Regions from separate parts of the Homo sapiens genome. Here all the other regions are linked to region 2. Evidence: fine-mapped QTL for protein levels in blood plasma. A gene starts in region 2. Each other region holds a variant in brackets. All regions are shown on one strand. Distances are between the middles of the regions. Region 1 has its middle 13 kb from the start of APOC1. Region 2 holds the start of APOC1 (apolipoprotein C1). Region 3 has its middle 6.3 kb from the start of NECTIN2. Region 4 overlaps NECTIN2 (nectin cell adhesion molecule 2).

Evidence for each region. PIP is the chance, under the fine-mapping model, that this variant and not a neighbour inherited with it causes the effect. The UK Biobank Pharma Proteomics Project read protein levels with antibody pairs (Olink). The fine-mapping took linkage between variants from a reference panel, not from the people measured, so its PIPs are less certain.
Region 1: its variant is fine-mapped to the plasma level of the APOC1 protein (UK Biobank, PIP above 0.99).
Region 3: its variant is fine-mapped to the plasma level of the APOC1 protein (UK Biobank, PIP above 0.99).
Region 4: its variant is fine-mapped to the plasma level of the APOC1 protein (UK Biobank, PIP above 0.99).

What each region holds. Positions count from the first base shown.
Region 1 is chr19:44,924,972-44,930,178 of GRCh38, reverse strand. It overlaps the pseudogene APOC1P1. Among named protein-coding and RNA genes, the nearest start is that of APOC1, 13 kb to the right of the region's middle. RefSeq lists an enhancer at 1,945-2,837. The variant G/C (reference allele first, on the strand shown) is at 3,156.
Region 2 is chr19:44,911,833-44,917,039 of GRCh38, reverse strand. It overlaps APOC1 (apolipoprotein C1), which reads right to left and starts at 2,432. Exons shown (of 4, transcript NM_001645.5): 1 at 2,307-2,432; 2 at 2,091-2,168; 3 at 715-850. The coding sequence starts at 2,148. RefSeq lists enhancers at 1,361-2,118, 2,119-2,878, 3,637-4,396 and a promoter at 2,293-3,419.
Region 3 is chr19:44,837,383-44,842,589 of GRCh38, reverse strand. No RefSeq gene overlaps it. Among named protein-coding and RNA genes, the nearest start is that of NECTIN2, 6.3 kb to the left of the region's middle. The variant C/T (reference allele first, on the strand shown) is at 2,268.
Region 4 is chr19:44,883,500-44,888,693 of GRCh38, reverse strand. It overlaps NECTIN2 (nectin cell adhesion molecule 2), which reads right to left. Exons shown (of 9, transcript NM_001042724.2): 7 at 2,694-2,757; 8 at 2,475-2,561; 9 at 1-584. The coding sequence ends at 315. Among named protein-coding and RNA genes, the nearest start is that of TOMM40, 5.2 kb to the left of the region's middle. RefSeq lists enhancers at 2,625-3,125, 3,445-3,944. The variant C/T (reference allele first, on the strand shown) is at 2,727.

The DNA of each region.
Region 1 (5,207 bases), 13 kb before region 2:
CAACCTCCAGCTCCCAGGTTCAAGCAATTCTCCTGCCTCATCATCCTGAGTAGCTGGGATTACAGGCATGCACCACCATGCCTGGCTAATTTTTTGTATTTTTTTTTTAGAAGAGACAGGGTTTCTCCTTGTTGGTCAGGCTGGTCTCAAACTCCTGACCTCAGGTGATCTGCCCGCCTCAGCCTGCCAAAGTGCTGGGATTACAGGCATGAGCCACTGCACCTGGCCTCCAAACAATCTTTCTAAGTTTAGGCCTGACTAGATTTTCCCTCCCTCCCTCCCTCCCTTCCTTCTTTCTTTCTTTCTTTCTTTCTTTTTTTTTTGGATGAGACAGGGTCTCATTCTGTTACCCAGGCTGGAATGCAGTGGCACAAACATAGCTCACTGCAGCCTCAACCTCCTGGGCTCAAGTGATCCTCTTGCCTCCGTCTCCGAAGTAGCTGGGACTACAGGTGTGTGCCATCACGCCTGGGTAATTTTTTGTATTTCTAGTAGAGATGGGGTTCTCAAACTCCTGACCTCAAGTGATCCACTCACCTCAGCCTTCCAAAGTGCTGGGATTACAGGTGTGAGCCACCGCGCTCGGCATATTCTTCACTGTTTTATTCCCCACATTGAAACAGTTTCTAGCACTTAGCAGATGCTCAATAAATATGTGTTGAGGAACGAATGACTCTCTAACTTGCCAAAGGGAGCAAGTGTGGATTTGAAGATGTACTGAGCATTTACAATGTGCCAGACACCCTATAGGCCTTCTGCTTTACTTCCCCACAGAACCACCATTTCACAGGAAAGGAAACTGAGGCTCACAGTAATGCCTCTCTCTTAAGATCACACAGGGAGTAAGGGGCTCTATGCCAGCCTGGGGACTCAGGTCCCACCAAGCTTGTGTCCTTCATTACCCCACAAGACCATCTTTTTTTTTTTCAATTTTTTTTTTTTTTTTTGAGACGTGGATTCGCTCTTATTGCCCAGGCTGGAGTGCAATGGCATTATCTCAGCTCACTGCAACCTCCGCCTCCCAGGTTCAAGTGATTCTCCTGCCTCAGCCTCCCAAGTAGCTGGGAATAGAGGCATGCACCACCATGCCTGACTAATTTTGTATTTTTAATAGAGACGGAGTTTCTCCATGTTGGTCAGGCTGGTCTCAAACTCCCAACCTCAGGTGATCTGCCCAACTTGGCCTCGAACCCCCGATCTCAGGTAATCTGCCCGACTCAGCCTCCCAAAGTGCTGGGATTACAGGCATGAGCTATCGCACCGGGGCTGGCTTGTATGCTTTTTGTTTTGTTTTGTTTTGTTTTGTTTTTTAAATAGAGACAGGATCACCGGGCATGGTGGCTCACACCTGTAATCCCAGCACTTTGGGAGGCTGAGGCGGGTGGATCACAAGGTCAGGAGTTCAAGACCAGCTTGGCCAAGATGGTGAAACCCCATCTCTACTAAAAATACAAAAAAATTAGCCGGGCGTGGTGGTGGGCGCCTGTAATCCTAGCTACTCAGGAGACTGAGGCAGAGAATTGCTTGAACTGGGGAGGCAGAGGTTGCAGTGAGCCGAGATGGCGCCACTGCACTCCAGCCTGGGCAACAGAGCGAGACTCTGTCTCAAAAAAAAAAAAAAAAAAATAGAGACAGGATCTCGCCATGTTAGCCAGGCTGGTCTCAAACTCCTAGGCTCCAGCAATCCTCCCACAGTGCTGGGATTACAGGTGTGAGCCACCGTACCTAAGCAAAACCATCTTTTTTTTTTTTCTTTTGTGACGGAATGTTGCTTTGTTGCCCAGGCTGGAGTGCAGTGGTGCAATCTTGGCTCACTGTAACCCCCACCTTACTGGTGCAAGCAATTCCCCTGCCTCAGCCTCCCGAGTAGCTGGGATTACAGGTGCACACCCCCATGTCAGGCTAATTTTTTGTACTTTTAGTAGAGACAGGGTTTCACCATGTTGGCCAGGCTGGTCTTGAACTCCTGATCTCAGGCAATCCGCCCGCCTAGGCCTCCCAAAGTGTTAGGATTATAGGTGTGAGCCACGGCGCCCAGCCCAAGACCATCTTTTAAAATGTGGCCTGGATGGGAGTCCGGGAAACTGTCCCTGACGTCTGAGATCCTTGAGATCTAGCTGTGTGACCAGAAGGATGCTGTCAGCCTCTCTGGGACTTGTTTTTTTTTTCAATCTGTTCATCTTGGACATCCTCCAGGGCTCCACACAAACACACCCCAGCCCTCCCGTGCCCTGGGAAGGGTTCTAACCACATCTTGGCAGGAAGTTCACTCTGTGTGATGCGGTTGATGAATTCCCGAGTGTAGTCCTCCAGGGTCTTTCCTAACTCCTCCAGGCCATCAAAGGGGTTGGAGACTTCTGGAGCCCCCTAGGCTGGGGCTGGGCCTGCCAGGAAGATGAGGCAGGGGTGCAAAATTTGGTTGTTGTTGTTGTTGTTGTTGTAGTTTTGAGACGGAGACTTGCTGTGTCAAATGGTGCGATCTCGGCTTACTGCAACCTCCGCCTCCTAGGTTCAAGCAGTTCTCCTGTCTCAGCCTCCCAAGTAGCCAAGCGCGCACCACAACGCCTGGCTGTTTTGTATTTTTAGTAGAGATGGGGTTTCACCATGTAGGCCAGGCTGGTTTCGAACTCCTGACCTCAAGTGATCTGCCCGCCTCGGCCTCCCAAAGTGCTGGGATTACAGGCATTAGCCGCCACGCCCCACCAAAAATTTGTTATTGGAACCCCCTTGGGGTGGGATCCCGGGGATAGATAAGGAGATCCTTGGGGATCATGTGGTTAGAATGGGGAGGATACTGAAGTGACCGCGTGGGGCTCAAGCCGCTGGGAATTGCCTTACTCAGCACTGACCTCCTCCCACAGCCCATCGCCCCATCACCCACTTTCAAGGCTATAAAAGGAGGACAGCCAATCCCAGAGGTGTGGAGATCCATACGTCATCGGTTACTAGGGCTCTCCTGGGCAGATTTGGCGCCTGCCGGACTGAGCCTGGGCGAACCTGGAGACCCACTCGACCACAATGGGGCAACCACGACCAAGAAGGGGCCCCAGAGCTCTCAGAGGTCCTCTAAGCCGGGACCCCAGGCCTGTAGCCACCTTCACTCTTCCAAATCTCCAACTCCGCAATTCTCCCATCCCACTTTTACCTTCCAAGAC[G/C]ATCGACAGAACCACCACCAGGACCGGGAGCGACAGGAAGAGCCTCATGGCGAGGCCGGAGGGGCACCCTGGAGGCGGAGGCAGGGGTTCAGGGGATCAGTGGCACCCTCCTCCCTCCCTCCCACGATCCCCTCATCTCCCTTTATGAGTTCTTGCAGAGTGGAGGCGGGTGTCCCTCCCAAGCACTCAACAACCTGAATCCTTGCTGGAGGGCTTGGTTGGGAGGTCCTGTCCTGCCCGCAGGACCTTTATCAGGCTGGGGAGGGGGCGGGGCAGGTTGATGTTGATCTCCCTCCTCCTGAGCCTTCCCCTGGAAGATTGCCTCCTTCTGCCCACCCAGGTTTTTCTCCTCTGCCCCTGGCCCGTGGGCGTTGGGGTCAGGTGGGGTCCTGACCATTTCCCTTAGCTCCGAAGCCCTTTACCATTCAGCACCCTCACCTCCCAATCTCCCTGACTCTGGGGGGTCCTCAGACTACCATAGCTCCTTTCCCCACTCAGAGGACAGCCTCGTCCTGTCCCTGTGGCCATCTTCCCTCAGGGGTCTCCCAGTAATAACCCTGTGATCTCATCCCCCCCTCATTCACACCGTGTCCCTAGATCACCTCTTTCCCTCACTTCCCCTCTCTCAGCAAGCCTCCTCAGCCCCAACAACTTTTCCTTTATGTTGCTGGGGCCTCCCAGTTGGCCCCGCAACCCTGCCCTGCGTGCCACCTCCAATTTCTTTCAGACCAGCCCTTGAAACATCCCAGACCACCCTGATATTCTCTGGGCTCTTAACTTGATGATTTTCAGTCTCCCTTTTTTGCAAAGGGAAGGGGTCGCCTTAGCTGGACACTAAAAACCTCACCTGCATTGGCCAGGCATGGTGGCTCATGCCTGTAATCCCAGCGCTTTGGGAAGCTGAGGAAGGAGGATCACTTGAGCCCAGGAGTTAAGAGACCAGCCTGGGCAATATAGGGAGACCTCATCTCTACAAAAAAGTTCAAAAATTAGCTGAGCGTGGTGGCGCACACCTGTAGTCCCAGCTATTCAAGAGGCTGAGGTAGGAAGATTGCTTGAGCCCAGGAGTTCGAGGCTGCAGTGAGCTGTGATTGCGCCACTGCACTCCAGCCTGGTGAGACAGAGTGAGACCCCATCTCAAAAAATTAAAACCTTCAGCTGCAAAGCTCTGAGTGTATGCCCCTTCTTCCCTTCCACCGGGCCTCACCCCCTTTGGCTGGCTACCTCCCCCAAACACTCTATCTGCTCTTATTCACCCTCTGATGCCCCTCCTGGCACCAAGCCTGCTTCCCACCATCACCACATCCGTCCCCCAGGGCTGGAGTCCAATTCCTTCCCCACCAGCTGCCTTTGACCGCCAGTGACCCTGGCAGCTGATGGGGAGGGTGTCCTCAGCCCAGCCTCAGACTCTAGTTCGGCTGGCCTTGTGCCCCCACAACCACGTGTCAGCCTGGCGGTAGGGGGATGGTTGTGAAAGGGACAGCATAGACAAGACCCTGGCAGGATTGCAACATCCCTCTGGCCAGCTCAGAGCTTCCAGTCCCTGTAAGCCCCAGGGGCCCCCCTACTTCCTCAACTGAGCCCAGCATTCCCCAAACATCCACCCAGATGTCTGCTTCCCCGATCCCACAAGAATAGAATAACAATGCTCCTGATTTTCCAACCTCATCCTCCCCTCTGCTATAGGGGTTTCTGTTTAATAGATGGGGAAACTGTCACACAACCAAGAACATCCAGTAGGGCTCAGTGAGGGGCAAAGAGGGGGCTACTGACTGGGCGCAGTGGCTCACACCTATAATCCCACCACTTTGGGAAGCTGAGGCAGGAGGATCTGCTTGAGCCCAGGAGTTTGACACCAGCCTGGGCAACACAGTAAGACCCTATCTCTAGAAAAAAATTAAAAATTTGGCCAGGTGCGGTGGCCCACGCCTGTAATCTGTGCACTTTGGGAGGCCTAGGTGGGTGGATCATTTGAGGTCAGGAGTTCTAGACCAGCCTGACCAACATGGTGAAACCCCGTCCCTGTCAAAAATAGAAAAAATTAGCCGGGTG
Region 2 (5,207 bases):
ACCCAGGTCTGGCCAAGCTTGGGGCCTTCATTTTCATTACCTCACAAAACCATCTTTTTTTTTTTTTTTTTAAATGGAGACAGGATCTCGCCATGTTGGTCAGGCTGGTCTCGAACTCCTGGGCTCAAGCAATCCTCCCATCTCAGCCTCCCATAGTGCTGGAATTACAGGTGTGAGCCACCATACCTGGGCAAGACCATCTTGTTTTTTTTTTTTTTTTTTTTTTTTTTGAGACAGAGTCTCCTTCTGTCACCCAGGCTGGCACAATGTTGGCTCACTGTAACTCCCACCTTCCTGGTTCAAGCAATTCCCCTGCCTCAGCCTCCCGACTAGCTGGGATTACAGGTGCACGCCACCATGCCTGCCTAATTTTTTTGTATTTTTAGTAGAGACAAGGTTTCACCATGTTGGTCAGACTGGTCTCGAACTCCTGACCTCAGGCAATCAGCCCACCTCGGCCTCCCTAAGTGCTGGGATTGCAAGCATGAGCCACCGTGCCCAGCCCAAGACCATCTTTTAAAATATGGCCTGGATGGGAGTCAGGGAAACTGTCCTTGAAGTCTGAGCACCTTGAGATCTAGCTGTGTGACCAGAGGGATGTTGTCAGCCTCTCCAGGACTTGTTTTTTTTTCAATCTGTTCATCTTGGACCATCTGCCAGGGCTCCACCCAAAAACACACCCCAGCTCTCCCGTGCCCTGGGAAGGGTTCTAACCGCATCTTGGCAGAAAGTTCACTCTGTTTGATGCGGCTGATGAGTTCCCGAGCCTTGTCCTCCAGTGTGTTTCCAAACTCCTTCAGCTTATCCAAGGCACTGGAGACGTCTGGGGTCCCCTGGGCTGGGGCTGGGCCTGCCAGGAAGATGGGCAGGGGTTCAAAATTTGTTTTTTTTTTTTTTTTTTTGGAGATGGAGTCTTGCTCTGTAGCCCAAGCTGGAGTGCAGTGGCATGATCTCGGCCTACTGCAACCACCACCTCCCGGGTTCAAGCAGTTCTCCTGCCTCAGCCTCCCAAGTAGCTGGGATTACAGGTGTGCACCACCACACCCAGCTATTTTTGTTTTGTTTTGTTTTGAGACGGAGTCTTGCTGTGTCAGCCAGGCTGGAGTGCAGTGGTATGATCTCGGCTCACTGCAACCTCCGCCTCCCGGGTTCAAGTGATTCTCCTGCCTCAGCCTCCCGAGTAGCTGGGCCTACAGGCGCGTGCCTCCACACCTGGCTAATTTTTTTGTATTTTTAGTAGAGACGAAGTTTCACCATGTTGGCCAGGCTGGTTTCGAACTCCTGACCTCAAGTGATCTGCCCGCCTCGGCCTCCCAAAGTGCTGGGATTACAGGCATGAGCCACCCTGCCCGGCCAAAAATTTGTTATTGGAACCCCCTTAGGTTGGGATACCGGGATGGATAGAGATCCTTGGGGATCATGTGGTTAGAATGGGGAGGAATGGCCGGACGCGGTGGCTCACGCCTGTAATCCCAGCACTTTGGGAGGTCGAGGCAGGCGGATCACAAAGTCAGGAGATCGAGACCACGGTGAAACCCTGTCTCTACTGAAAATACAAAAAATTAGCCGGGCGCGGTGGCGGGCGCCTGTAGTCCTGCTGAGGCAGGAGAATGGCGTGAACCAGGGAGGCGGAGCTTGCAGTGAGCCGAGATCGCGCCACTGCACTCCAGCCTCGGCGACAGAGCGAGACTCCGTCTCAAGAGAAAAAAAAAAAAAAAAAAAAAGAATGGGGAGGAATACTGGAGTGACCTGGTGGGGCTCAAGCTGCTGGGAATTGCCTTACTCAGCACTGACCTCTCCCAGAGCCCCCCACCCAGCTTACCCACTTTCAAGGCTGTCGAAGCAGGACAGCCAATCCCAGAGGTGTGGGCCTCAATACGTCATCGGTTGCTAGTGCTCTCCTGCGCAGATTTGGCGCCTGCGGGACTGAGCCTGGGAGAACCTGGAGACCCACCCGACCACGATGAGGCAACCACGACCCAGAAGGGGCCCCGGAGCTCTCAGAGGTCCTCTAAGCCGGGACCCCAGGCCTGTAGCCACCTTCACTCTTCCAAATCTCCAACTCCGCAATTCTCCCATCCCACTTTTACCTTCCAAGACGATCGACAGAACCACCACCAGGACCGGGAGCGACAGGAAGAGCCTCATGGCGAGGCCGGAGGGGCACTCTGGAGGCAGAGGCAGGGGTTCAGGGGATCAGTGGCACCCTCCTCCCTCCCTACCTCCCTCCCACGATCCCCTCATCTCCCTTTTTGAGTTTCTTGCAGAGTGTAGGCGGGTGTCCCTCCCAGGCACTCAGCACCAACCTGAATCCTTGCTGGAGGGCTTGGTTGGGAGGTCCTGTCCTGCCCGCAGGACCTTTATCAGGCTGGGGAGGGGGCGGGGCAGGTTGATGTTGATCTCCCTCCTCCTGAGCCTTCCCCTGACCGCCTGCCTCCCTCTGTCCACCCACGTTTTTCTCCTCTGCCCCTGTCCCGTGAGCGTTGGGGTCAGGTGGGGTCCCGGGCACTTCCCTTAGCCCCAAAGCCCCTCCCCGTTCAGCACTCTCACCTCTCAATCTTCCTGACTCTGTGGGGTCCTCAGACCACCTTAGTCCCTTTCCCCACTCAGAATGTAGCAGGAGGAGCCGCAGACAAAATTCCTCAGACGCTGAGTTAAGGAAGGGGTTTATTCGTTCGGGGAATGGGCAAGATTCCTGTCTCAAGAGCCGAGCTCCCCGAGTGAGCAATCCCTGTTCCTTTTAAGGGCTCACAACTCTAAGTGGGTGCACGTGAGAGGGTCGTGATCGATTGAACAAGCAGGGGATGCGTGACTGGGGGCTGCATGCACCGGTAATTAGATCGGAACAAAACAGAATAGGGATTTTCACAGTGCTTTTCTATACAATGTCTGTAATCTATAGATAACCTAACGGATTAGGTCAGGGGTCAATCTTTAACCACCAGGCCCAGGGTGTGGCGCGGGCTGTCTGCTTGTGGATTTCATTTCTGCCTTTTAGTTTTTACTTTTTCTTTCTTTGGAGGCAGAAATTGGGCATAAGACAATATGAGGGGTGGTCTCCTCCCTTAAGAAGACAGCCTTGTCCTGTCCCTGTGGCCATCTTCCCTCAGGGGTCTCCCAGTAATAACCCTGTGATCTCATCCCCCCCTCATTCACACCGTGTCCCTAGATCACCTCTTTCCCTCACTTCCCCTCTCTCAGCAAGCCTCCTCAGCCCCAACAACTTTTCCTTTATGTTGCTGGGTCTCCCAGTTGGCCCGGCGCTCCTACCCTGCGTGCCACCTCCAATTTATTCCAGACCAGCCCTTGAAGCACCCCAGACCACCGTGATATTCTCTGGGCTCTTAACTTCATGGTTCTCAGTCTCCCTTTTTTGGGAGGGGAACGGGTCGCCTTAGCTGGATGACACTGCAAAAACCTCACCTGCATTAGCCAGGCATGGTGGCTCATGCCTGTAATCCCAGCACTTTGGGAAGCTGAAGAGGGAGGATCACTTGAGCCTGGGAGTTCGAGACCAGCCTGGGCAATATAGGGAGACCTCATCTCTACAAAAAAGTTCAAAAATTAGCCGAGCGTGGTGGCGCATGCCTGTAGTCCCAGCTACTCAAGAGGCTGAGGTAGGAAGATTGCTTGAGCCCAGGAGTTCGAGGCTGCAGTGAGCTGTGATTGTGCCACTGCACTCCAGCCTGGTGGGACAGAGACCCCATCTCAAAAAATTAAAACCCTCAGCTGCAAAGCTCTGCGTGTATGTCCCTTCTTCCCTTCCACCGGGCCTCACCCCCTTTGGCTGGCTACCTCCCCCAAACACTCTATCTGCTTTTATTCACCCTCTGACGCCCCTCCTGGCACCAAGCCTGCTTCCCACCATCACTACATCCGTCCCCCAAGGCTGGAGTCCAATGCCTTCCCCACCAGCTGCCTTTGACCGCCAGTGACCCTGGCAGCTGGTGGGGAGGGTGTCCTCCGCCTAGCCTCAGACTCTAGGTTGGCTGGCCTTGTGCCCCCGCAACCACGTGTCAGCCTGGCAGTAGGGGGATGGTTGTGAAAAGGACAGCATAGACAAGACCCTGGCAGGATTGCAACATCCCTCTGGCCAGCTCAGAGCTTCCAGTCCCTGTCAGCCCCAGGGGCCCCCCTACTTCCCCAACTAAGCCCAGCACCCCCCAAACATCCACCCAGATGTCTGCTTCCCAGACCCCACAAGAATAGCATAACAATGCTCCTGCTTTTCCAACCTCATCCTCCCCTCTGCTATAGGGGTTTCTCTTTAATAGATGGGGAAACTGTCGCATAACCAAGAACATCCAGTAGGGCTCAGCGAGGGGCAAAGATGGGGGCTACTGGCTGGTTGCAGTGGCTCACGCCTGTATTCCCAGAACTTTGGGAGGCCAAGGTGGGCGGAGCACTTGAGGTCAGGAGTTCGAGACCTGCCTGGCCAACATGGTGAAACTCCGTCTCTACCAAAAATTCAAAAATTATCCAGGCATGGTGGTGTGCACCTGTGGTCCCAGCTACTCAGGAGGCTGAGGCAGGAGAGTCGTTTGAACCCATGAGGTGGAGGTTGCAGTGAGCCAAGATTGTGCCACTGCACTCCAGCTTGGGTGACAGAGTGAGACTCCGTCTCAAAAACATAAAAAAAATTTAAAAAAGGGGGCTCTTTGTCCTTCTCCTTCCCAGGCTCCAGGATGTCTCTGTGGATGGTTGCTGGGTCAGCTCCTGTCCCATACGACTCCCTGCCAGCCTTTGTTCTGGAACCTCCTTCCCATCCTTGTCCCACCTCTGGATCTGACTGGGGATGTGGTGAGATAGGGCACCCTGTCTGCTTAGACATCTTCATAGGTTGGTGGGGCGTGGTGGCTCACACCTGTAATCCAACTACTTTGGGAAGCTTTGGCAGGAGGATCTGCTTGAGCCCAAGAGTTTGAGATCAGCCTGGGCAACATAGTAAGACCCCATCTCTACAAAAAAGTTTAAAATATGGCCAGGCATGGTGGCTCACTCCTGTAATCCCAGTGCTTTGGGAGGCCGAGGCGGGTGGATCACCTGATGTCAGGAGTTTGAGACCAACCTGACCACCGTGGTGAAACCTCGTTTCTACTAAAAATACAAAAATTAGCCTGGTGTGGTGGTGTGCGCCTGTAATTCTAGCTACTCAGGAGGCTGAGGCAGGAGAATTGCTTGAACCCGGGGGGCAGAGGTTGCGGTGA
Region 3 (5,207 bases), 74 kb after region 2:
TTTTTTTTTTTGAGACAGTCTCTGCTCTGTCGCCCAGGCTGGAGTGCAGTGGCGCGATCTTGGCTCAGTGCAAGCTCCGCCTCCCAGGTTCATGCCATTCTCCTGCCTCAGCCTCTCGAGTAGCTGGGACTACAGGTGCCTGCCACCACGCCCAGCTGATTTTTTGTATTTTTAGTAGAGACGAGGTTTCATGGTCTTAGCCAGGATGGTCTCGATCTCCTGACCTCGTGCTCCACCTGCCTCGGCCTCCCAAAGTGCTGGGATTACAGGCGTGAGCCACTGTGCCCGGCTGCTCGGTGCATTTTTAAATGTTTTGTAGAATTTGATTCTCGCTTTGTTGCCCAGGCTGGTCTTGAACTCCTGCCCTCAAGTGATCCTCTCACCTCAGCCTCCCAAAGTGCTGGGATTACAGGTGTGAGCCATCGCGCCTGGCAATAAATGTGCTTTAGATCTCTCTGACCTTCTCTCCCCAATCTGAGGCCAGGTTTGTGGACCAGGACCTCTGGGTTTTAGTGCCAGCCTTGCTACTAACTTGCTTTGCAAAATCCTGGGACCCCCGTTTATCCATTGAACAAAAGAACCAGTCCCCAGGAAGTCTTCTTCTAGGAAGGCCTCTAGCACCTCCTTTCTCCTGGCCTACGAATGAGTGGGCTTAGCTCTCTCCTGGCTGTTCTTTGTGAGCAGGGATGAGCCCAGGAAGAAAGCCCCAGGAGGCTGGCCATGGTGGCTCAAGCCTGTAATCCCAGTACTTTGGGAGGCCGAGACAGATGGATCACCTGAGGTCAGGAGTTTGAGACCAGCTTGGCCTACGTGGTGAAACCCTGTCTCTACTGAAAATACAAAAATTAGCAGGATGTGGTGGCGGGTGCCTATAATCCCAGCTACTTGGGAGACTGAAGCCGGAGAATCGCTTGAACCCGGGAGGTGGAGGTTGCAGTGAGCCAAGATTGTGCCACTGCACTCCAGCCTGGGTGACAGCAAGGCTCTGCCAAAAAAAAAAGGAAAAAAAAAAAAAGAAAGAAAAAAATGCCCCAGAGGTGTAGGCTGGAGTTTCACACCCTTGGGTCACAAGCATGAGGCTGAGCACCAAGTTTGGTGACAAATGACTGGGTGGGTTCCACGCCCGCCTGGGGAGTTGACTTTTAGTGTCAAGGAGTCCCAGAGGTGGCACTTCACTGAAGAGCCATAACCACTAGAAGGTAGGGGCATAGGTAGGGGCAAAGGCTTCCTGACGGAGCTATGGAGCTGATGCCAAGTATTTTACCTGCCTGGCAACCTTTCCTTTCTTTTAGCAGCAGCAGCAGCTCCCCTAACCACTTCCTCCCCTCAGTCTTTTTTTTTTTTTTTTAATTAAGACAGGGTCTCACTCTGTCGCTCAGGCTGGAGTGTGGTGACATTACCATGGCTCACTGCAGCCATGACCTCCCTGGCTCGGGATCCTTCCATGTCAACTTCCCGAGTAGCTGGGACTACAGGCATGTGCCACTATGCTTGGCTAATTTTTCTATTTTTTTGTAGAGATGGGTTTTTGGGTTGTTGCCGAGGCTGGTCTTGAACTCTTGGGCTCAAGCAATTTGCCTGCCTCGGCCTCCCAGAGTGCTGGAATCACAAACGTGAGCCACCATACCCGGCTCTTATTCTGAGACAGGGTCATGCTCTGTTGGCCAGACTGGAGTGCAGTGGTACAATCATGGCTCATTGAAGCTTCCACCTCTCAGGCTCAAGCAATCCTCCCACTTCAGCCTCCCAAGTGGCTGGGACTATAGGCATTCGCCACTGTGCCAGAATAATCTTTTTTTTTTTTTTTGAAACGGAGTCTTGCTCTGTTGCCCAGGCTGGAGTGCAGTGGAGCGATCTTGGCTCACTGCAAGCTCTGCCTCCTGGGTTCACGCCGTTCTCCTGCCTCAGCCTCCCGAGTAGCTGGGACTACAGGCGCCCGCCACCATGCCCAGCTAATTTCTTGTATTTTTAGTAGAGATGGGGTTTCACCTTGTTAGCCAGGATGGTCTCAATCTCCTGACCTTGTGATCTGCCCGCCTCGGACTCCCAAAGTGCTGGGATTACAGGCGTGAGCCACCGCACCCGGCCAATCTTTTTTTTTTTTTTTTTTTTTCTGATACGGAGTGTCAGTCTGTTGCCCAGGCTGGAATGCAGTGGTGTGATTTTGGCTCACTGCAACCTCTGCCCCCTGGGTTCAAGTGATTCTCCTGCCTCAGCCTCCCAAGTAGCTGGGACTACAGGTTTGGGCCACGACGCCTGGCTATGTT[C/T]GCAGTTTTATTAGAGACGGGGTTTCACAATATTACCAGGCTGGTCTTGAACTCCTGACCTAAAGTGGTCTGCCCTCCTCTGCCTCCCAAAGTGCTGGGATTACAGTCGTGAGCCACCGTGCTCGGCCTGCCAGACTCATCTTTTGACTTTTTTGTAGAGACAGGCTCTCACTAGGTTGCTCAGGCTGGTCTTGAACTCCTAGGCTCAAGCAATTTTCCTGCCTTGGCCTCCCAAACTGCTGGGATTACAAGCATGAGACATGACTCCTGGTATACATATATATATATATGAGACTATATATATATGTATAGACTATATATATATATATATGTATGAGACTATGTGTGTGTGTGTGTGTGTGTGTGTGTGTGTGTGTATATATATATATATATATATATATATATATATATATATATATAGTCATTTGCAATCAAATATAACCTTACTAATAAACTATATACCCCAAAAAATCTGTACATGTCTGGGAGATGCACAGAGCTTTGTAAATTTCCAAGGGCAGGGCAAGGAGGGGCTGGTGGTGAAAGCTTTCAGAATTCTTCAGGATGTCCAGGCTTTGAAGAATAGGCAAGCTTTGTCACAGCACGGGATATGGGGAAGGGCATTCCAGGTAGGAGGGTGGTGACAGCGGGAGCAGGGGATGTGAGGGTCAGTATCTTAGAAGGTCCAGAATGCCAGCTGAAGGGCGGCTCATGCTCTGGGAACCACAGAAGGTTAAAGAGCAAGGGTAGTTTACTACCAACTTCTCTTTACTTCCTGGAGCCCCAGATCCTGAGGTTCACCCCTCCCACTTTCCTATTGCCCTAGGCCTTTGTAATGTAGGCTGGAGTTTCAACCCTTGGGAGGAGGGGTCATACTGATGTGGCCCCAGGCTGCCATCTCTATGCAAATTCCCTGGGATGCCATGCAGATGAGGGACCTTATGCAAATGTATTCCCTCCTGGTGGGGCAGGCTGGGATCCTCCACTCATTAACTTGGGGACCAGGTACTGGATGGAGAACCCTTTCCTCTTCTCTTTCCCTTCCCACTAGCCATCTGTTCACTCGCCATCCAACTCACCAAACCCCAACACCAATGTCTGCCTTTAGAGTGGTATCTCTGTATCTGGTCCCTGCCCTGGACTAAGGGAGTGTTTGTATTTTATTTATTTTATTTTATTATATTTTATTTTACTTTTGAGATGGAGTCTCGCTCTGTTGCCCAGGCTAGAGTGCAGTGGCGCGATCTCGGCTCACTGCAAGCTCCGCCTCCCGGGTTCACGCCATTCTCCTGCCTCAGCCTCCCGAGTAGCTGGGACTACAGGCGTCTGCCACCATGCTGGCTAATATTTTGTATTTTTAGTAGAGACAGGGTTTCACCGTGTTAGCCAGGATGGTCTCGATCTCCTGACCTCGTGATCCGCCCGCCTGGCCTCCCAAAGTGTTGGGATTACAGGCGTGAGCCACTGCGCCCAGCCTATTTGTTTATTTATTTATTTATTTTTGAGACGAAGTCTCGCTCTTGTCCCCCCAGGCTAGCGTACAATGGTGTGATCTCGGCTCACTGCAACCTCCGCCTCCCGGGTTCAAGCGATTCTCCTGCCTGAGCCTCCCGAGTAGCTGGGATTACAGGTGCCTGCCACCACGCCCAGCTAATTTTTGTATTTTTAGTAGAGACGGGGTTTCTACTAAATCATGTTTGCCAGGCTGGTCTCGAACCCCTCACCTCAGGTGATCTGCCTGCCTCGGCCTCCCAAAGTTCTGGGATTACAGGCGTGAGCCACCGCACCTGGCCTTTATTTTTTTTTTTTTGAGACAGAGTGTCGCCCTGTCACCCAGGCTGGAGTGCAGTGGTGTGATCTCGGCTCGCTGCCACCTCCGCCTCCTGGGTTCAAGTGATCCTTGTGTCTCAGCCTCCTGAGTAGCTGGGATTACAGGCGCGTGCCACCATGCCCAGCTAATTTTTGTCTTTTTTTTTTTGTAGAGACAAGGTTTCACCATGTTGGCCAGGCTGGTCTCGAACTCATGACTTCAGGTGATCTGCCTGCCTCGGCCTCCCAAAGTGCTGGGATTACAGGTGTGAGCCACCGCACCTGGCCTAAGGCAACCTTTTTGCTTTTCTCTGTGTCTCTTTATTTTTCCTTAGATAATCACAATAATTAACATGTACTGCACATGGACTCTGTGCCAGGCTTTGTACTAAATACTTCCCTGGTTATCTCATCAAATTCTCCCCTCCATCCTCTGATCCTCTGTGTGCATTTGCTGTATTTTTTTAAAGGGAATTTTCAATTCTGTTATATAGGGAACAAGAGCCCTATAAATAAGGACACAGACAGGTGAAATGAAGGATGGATATTAAGAAGCAACTCAAGCCGGGCGTGGTGGCTCACACCTGTAATCCCAGCACTTTGGGAGGCTGAGGCAGGCGGATCATGAGGTCAGGAGATCGAGACCATCCTGGCGAACACGGTGAAATCTTGTCTCTACTAAAAATACAAAAAATTAGCCAGGCGTGGTGGCACCCGCCGGTAATCCCAGCTACTCGGAAGGCTGAGGCAGGAGAATCAGTTGAACCCGGGAGGCGGAGGTTGCAGTGAGCTGAGATCGCGCCACTGCACTCCAGCCTGGGCAACTGAGCAAGACTCCGTCTCAAAAAAAAAAAAAAAGCAACTCATGAGACCTGTTAGACATACTAAGAATGTGAGCTGAACACAGATGGGAGGGATGCAGGGATCCAGTAAGCTCCAAGCATTCATGCGTCCTGTGGGCGACACCCACTCTGCTCCATGAGTCCCAAGCCCAAGACACAGGTAAAAGCTGTGGCTGCCAAGCAGGTGATCAGCCAGCTACAGTCATCTAGCTTCTCATGTTTATTTTTGTTGTTGTTTTGAGACGGAGTCTCGCCCTGTTGCCCAGGCTGGAGTGCAGTGGCGTGATCT
Region 4 (5,194 bases), 28 kb after region 2:
GAGGCATTGGGGGGTGAGAGGTATGGTCTAAGGTCACAGTCTGGGAGAGGAGTCCTTGGGATCAGAGGTTGTGCAGAAGCACCTTCCCCACCTCCTGCCTCATGAGATAAGGTTGCCAGGATTCCATTATCACGGTGAATTTCTCTGGGCTCATGGGTTAGGGGTCATAGTGGAGCCACCAAGGTAGACATCACAAATGGAATGCATATGTGTTAACTGACAGTGGCCTGGCCAGAGGTCAGGGGGCACTAGATCCTTGGCAAGAAAGCTAAGGGATCAACAGGTGAGATGTGAGACGCCAGGCGCATGGCAGCTCACACATACATGGCCCGGGACATGACAAAGCCTTTGCCCTGGTAGGAATCAGAGGGGCTGCTATAGGACAGAGCATCATAGATGGGGTTGATCTTGTCCAGATACTCTTCCTCCTCCTCCCCCTCCTCATCCTCTAGATCCAGGGAAACGTCTTCCACAGCAGGTGGCCCTGGAGGCACCGGGATGGGGGACCCCAGGCTTGTGGCTCCAGGGTGCAAGGGTCCTGACCGTTCTTCCAAGGTGGGCAGCTCATGGTATCGAGGCATTTCCTGGAGGTAGAGAGAGGACAGGAACTCAAGATCACTTCCTACGCACGACACAGATTACCAATCTGCTCTTGACCCCAAAATCCTGACCGCTCTCTCCCCATGCCAACAAGATGCCACCTCACTCCTTGTCCCCTGAGGCCATATTGCACTGGGACATTCATTCAGCCCTTCCTTAACCCAAAGCCCAGCTCGTGCAACTCACCCTGTTAATCCTGGGACTCACTTTTGACACTCGATCTCTGCAAATCTTTCCCCATGAACCTTTCACCTCAGTCTTGACCTCAAATACTTAACCTTGGGCTCTAAACAGTCCTTTGAACCTTGAGCGCAACCTCAGTGTCTGACCCCTGACCTCCAGTAGACCACTGAGGGGAGTGACTTGATTTGTCTTGTCCCAGCTTCAGGCACAGTATCCAGCAAATGTAGATAATCAATTTTCTTTCATTCTGTTTTTTTTTGTTGTTGAGACGGAGTTTTGCTCTTGTCTCCCAGGCTGTTGTGCAATGGTGCAATCTGGGCTCACTGCAACCTCTGCCTCCCGGGTCCAAGCGATTCTCCTGCCTCAGCCTCCCAAGTAGCTGGGATTACAGGCGCCCGCCACCACGCCCAGCTAATTTTTGTAATTTTTAGTAGAGACAGGGTTTCACCATGTTGGCCAGGCTGGTCTTGGAACTCCTGACCTCAGGTGATCCACCTGCCTTGGCCTCCCAAAGTGCTGGGATTACAGGCGTGAGCAACCGCACCCGGCCTTTTTCTTTTTTGAGACGGAGTCTTGCTCTGTTGCCTAGGCTGGAGTGCAGTGGCGTGGTCTCAGCTCATTGCAACTTCTGCCTCCTGGGTCCAAGCGATTCTCCTGCTTCAGCCTCCTGAATAGCTGGGATTACAGGAGCATGTCACCCATGCCTGGCTTATTTTTGTTTTTAGTAGAGAAGGGGTTTCACCTTGTTAGCCAGGGTGGTCTGGAACTCCTGACGTCAGGTGATCTGCCCGTCTCAGCCTCCCAAAGTGCTGGGATTACAGGTGTGAGCCACCATGCCTGACCAGATAATCAATTTTCATTGACCTAATGACTTTTCCTCTTTTTTTTTTTTTTTGAGATAGGGTCTCACCCTGATGCCCAGGCTGGAGTGTAGTGGCACAGCCCCAACCACCTGGGCTTAAGCAATCCGCCCACCTCAGCCTACAGGCATTTGCCACCACATCCAGGTAAATTCAGTATTTTTGTAGACGCAAAATGTTGCTGGGTAGCCCATGTTGCCCACGCTGGTCTCGAGCTCCTAGGCTCAAGGGGTCCAGCTACCTTGGCCTCCCAAAGTACTGGGATTATAGACCAGAGCCACCATGCCCGGCCCAGGTGATTTTATTTATTTGGTTTTATTTATTTTTTTGAGACGGAATCTTGCTCTGTTGCCCAGGCTGGAGTGCAGTGGTGTGATCTTAGCTCACTGTAACCTCGGCCTCCTGGGTTCAGGCGATTCTTCCTCCTCAGCGCCCCGGGTAGCTAAGATTACAGGCTCGCACCACCACACCCAACTAATTTTTTGTGTTTTGAGTAGAGACGGGGTTTCACCATGTTGCACAGGCTGGTCTCGAACTCCTGACCCCAAGTGATCCTCCTGCCTTGGCCTCCCAAAGTGCTGGGATTATAGGCGTGAGCCACCGTGCCCAGCCCCCAAGTGACTTTAAATTCTAACCTTGTGACCTTGGGCCTTTTCACCCCTGACCTCCCCCATGGAATCCTGAACACATCTCAATGCATTAAGCACCAACCGGGGACACACCCTTGACCTTGAGTTATGACCTTTAGTCTTTGACCTCTTTTGCCAGGCCTGACCCCTGGCCCTTCAACCCAGACCCCCAACCCACCTTTGTCTTCCCATGAGCTCCTACCTGCTCAGTGCATGAGGCGCCAGCATCAAAGTAGGGGGTCTTGAGTGGGCTGTGCTCCGAGGCCCCCAGAGTGAAGAGCTGGGAGGGCTGTAGTGGGAGAGGGGCGGGGAGGTCAGGAACTGCCCCCACCACCCAGCCAGCTTCTCCCTGCCAGGCCCCTCCCAGCCCTGGGGTGGGTGTGGAGGTGGGGATAGCTTGGGCTCCAGGGAAAGTGCTCACCATCTCCTGTGCCTCCAGCTTCGCTTTTGGGGT[C/T]GGTGGCTTGTAGGAGGGAGGTCCCTCCAGGCTGTGGGGTAGGAGGTAGGACAAGTGGAGATTAAGACCCAGGCATCCCTCTGACTCCGGGGTTATGGCACATGCTGTTCCCTCTACCTGGGTCTCCCTTTCCCCTGCCCCCTTTTCTTGCCTGGAGTAAGAGTTTTTATTCATTCCATGAATTCCTCTTTTTCCCGGAAGCCTTCAGGTTTCCCCAGTGGATCAGGAATTCCTGTTACACGGACATACCTAGCTGTACTTCCCCCTCAGGGCACTTACTGAATTTGTACTTGAAATGTTATTTATAATTACCATGCCCCACTGTGAGCTCTGGGAGGGAAAAAAGATCTGTGTTGGGCTGGGGGCAGTGGCTCACGCCTGTAATCCCAGCACTTTGGGAGGCTGAGGCGGGCGGATCATCTGAGGTCAGCAGTTCGAGACCAGCCTGGCCAACATGGTGAAATGCCATCTCCCCAAAAAATACAAAAATTAGCTGGGCATGATGGTGCACGCCTGTAATCCCAGCTACTCAGGAGGCTGAGGCACAAGAATCGCTTGAACTCGGGAGGCAGAGGTTGCAGTGAGATGAGATCACTCCACTCCAGCCTGTGCAATAGAGTGAGATGCCATCTCAAATTAAAAAAAAAAAAAAAAAAAAAAGAAAGAAAGATCAGCCAGGCGTGGTGGCTCACGCCTGTAATCCCAGCACTTTGGGAGGCCGAGGTGGGCAGATCACCTGAGGTCAGGAGTGTGAGACCAGCCTGACCAACATGGAGAAACCCTGTCCCTACTAAAAATACAAAATTAGCCGGGCGTGGTGGCGCATGCCTGTAATCCCAGCTACTCAGGAGGCTGAGGCAGGAGAATTGCTTGAACCCGGGAGGTGGAGGTTGTGGTGAGCCGAGATCGCGCCATTGCACTCCAGCCTGGGAAAAAAGAGCGAAACTCCACCTCAAAAAGAAAAAAAAAGAAAAGAAAAGAAAAGAAAAAAAAGAAAGATCTGGGTCGTCAGCAAGGTGTCTCCAGAATCCACTATGAGGAGTTCAGTAAATATTTGTGAAAAGAATGAATGAATAAATGAAGTGCCTTCCTGTCCCTCAAATTAGGTTAAAGTTCCTGTCCCTCATTCTACACACCCACAGACCAAAGCATACAGTAATGACAGGTGCTTACGATGCATTCTGTCAGCTCAGATGTCCCCTCTTCCAGGAAGCCCTACCTGACCATCCAGCCTGGGTCAGATGCCCCCTCTGGCTTCTCAGAGCTTGCTCAACTGCCCTATCCCATCACTGGTCATGCTACACCATCACTATCTGGAGACAGTTTTGTCTCCTCCTCCATATTGTGAGCTCCAGGCCGTCTCGGACACAGTGGGTCACAGCATGGAGCTGCACACAGAGGAGATCAGCAGCAAGTTATTGGTTTGAACTAACTAGATGATTAAGACAGTGGTGTAACAGACCTTCCTGTGCATCAGAAAAACTTAGAGAGCTTGTGGTAAATACAGATTCCAGGCTGGGCATGGTGGCTCACGCCTGTAATCCGAGCACTTTGGGAGGCTGAGGTGGGTGGATCACCTGAGGTCAGGAGTTCAAGACCAGCCTGGGCAACATGGCAAAACCCTGTCTCTACAAAAATACAAAAACTAGCTAGGTGTGGTGGTACGTGGTCCCATTTACTTGGGAGGCTGCGGTAGGAAGATTGGTTGAGCTCAGGAGGCGAAGGTTGCAGTGAGCTCAGATTATACCACTGAACTCTAGCCTGAGGGACAGAGTGAGATCCTGTCTCAAAAAAACAAATTTTGCATAGCTCGCATACCTCAGACTGCTCTGAGCTATTTTTCTTTTCTTTTTTTTTTTTTACAAGGTCTCACTCTGTTGGCCAGACTGGAGTACAGTGGTGTGATCATAGCTCACTGCAGCCTCCACATGCCCCCACCCCCACCTCAGCCCACCCAAGTAGCTGGGACTACAGGCATGGGCTACCAGGTCTGGGTAATTTTTGTATTTTTTTTGTAGACAGGTTTCGCCATGTTGCCCAGGCTGGTCTCGAACTCCTGAGCTCAAGTTATCTACTTGGGTTGGCTTCCCAAAGTGCTGGGATTACAGGTGTGAGGCACCGTGCCCAGTCTTTTATTTTTTAAGATACAGGGTCTTGCTCTGTCACCTGGGCTAGAGTGCAGTGGCATGATCATAGCTCATTGCAGACTTGAGCTCCTGGGCTCAAGTGACCTCCCACCCCAGCCTCCTGAGGAGCTGGACCACAGGTGTGCACCACTTTGCCTGGCTAATTTTGTTTGTTTTATTTTTTTAGAGATGGTGTCTCACTTTGATGTTCAGTCTGGTCTCGAACCACTAGCAACAAGAGCCTTGGCCTTCCAAAGTGCTGGCATTGGCTGGGCGCAGTGGCTCATGCTTGTGATCTTAGCACTTTGGGAGGCCGAGGCGGGTGGATCACTTGAGGTCAGG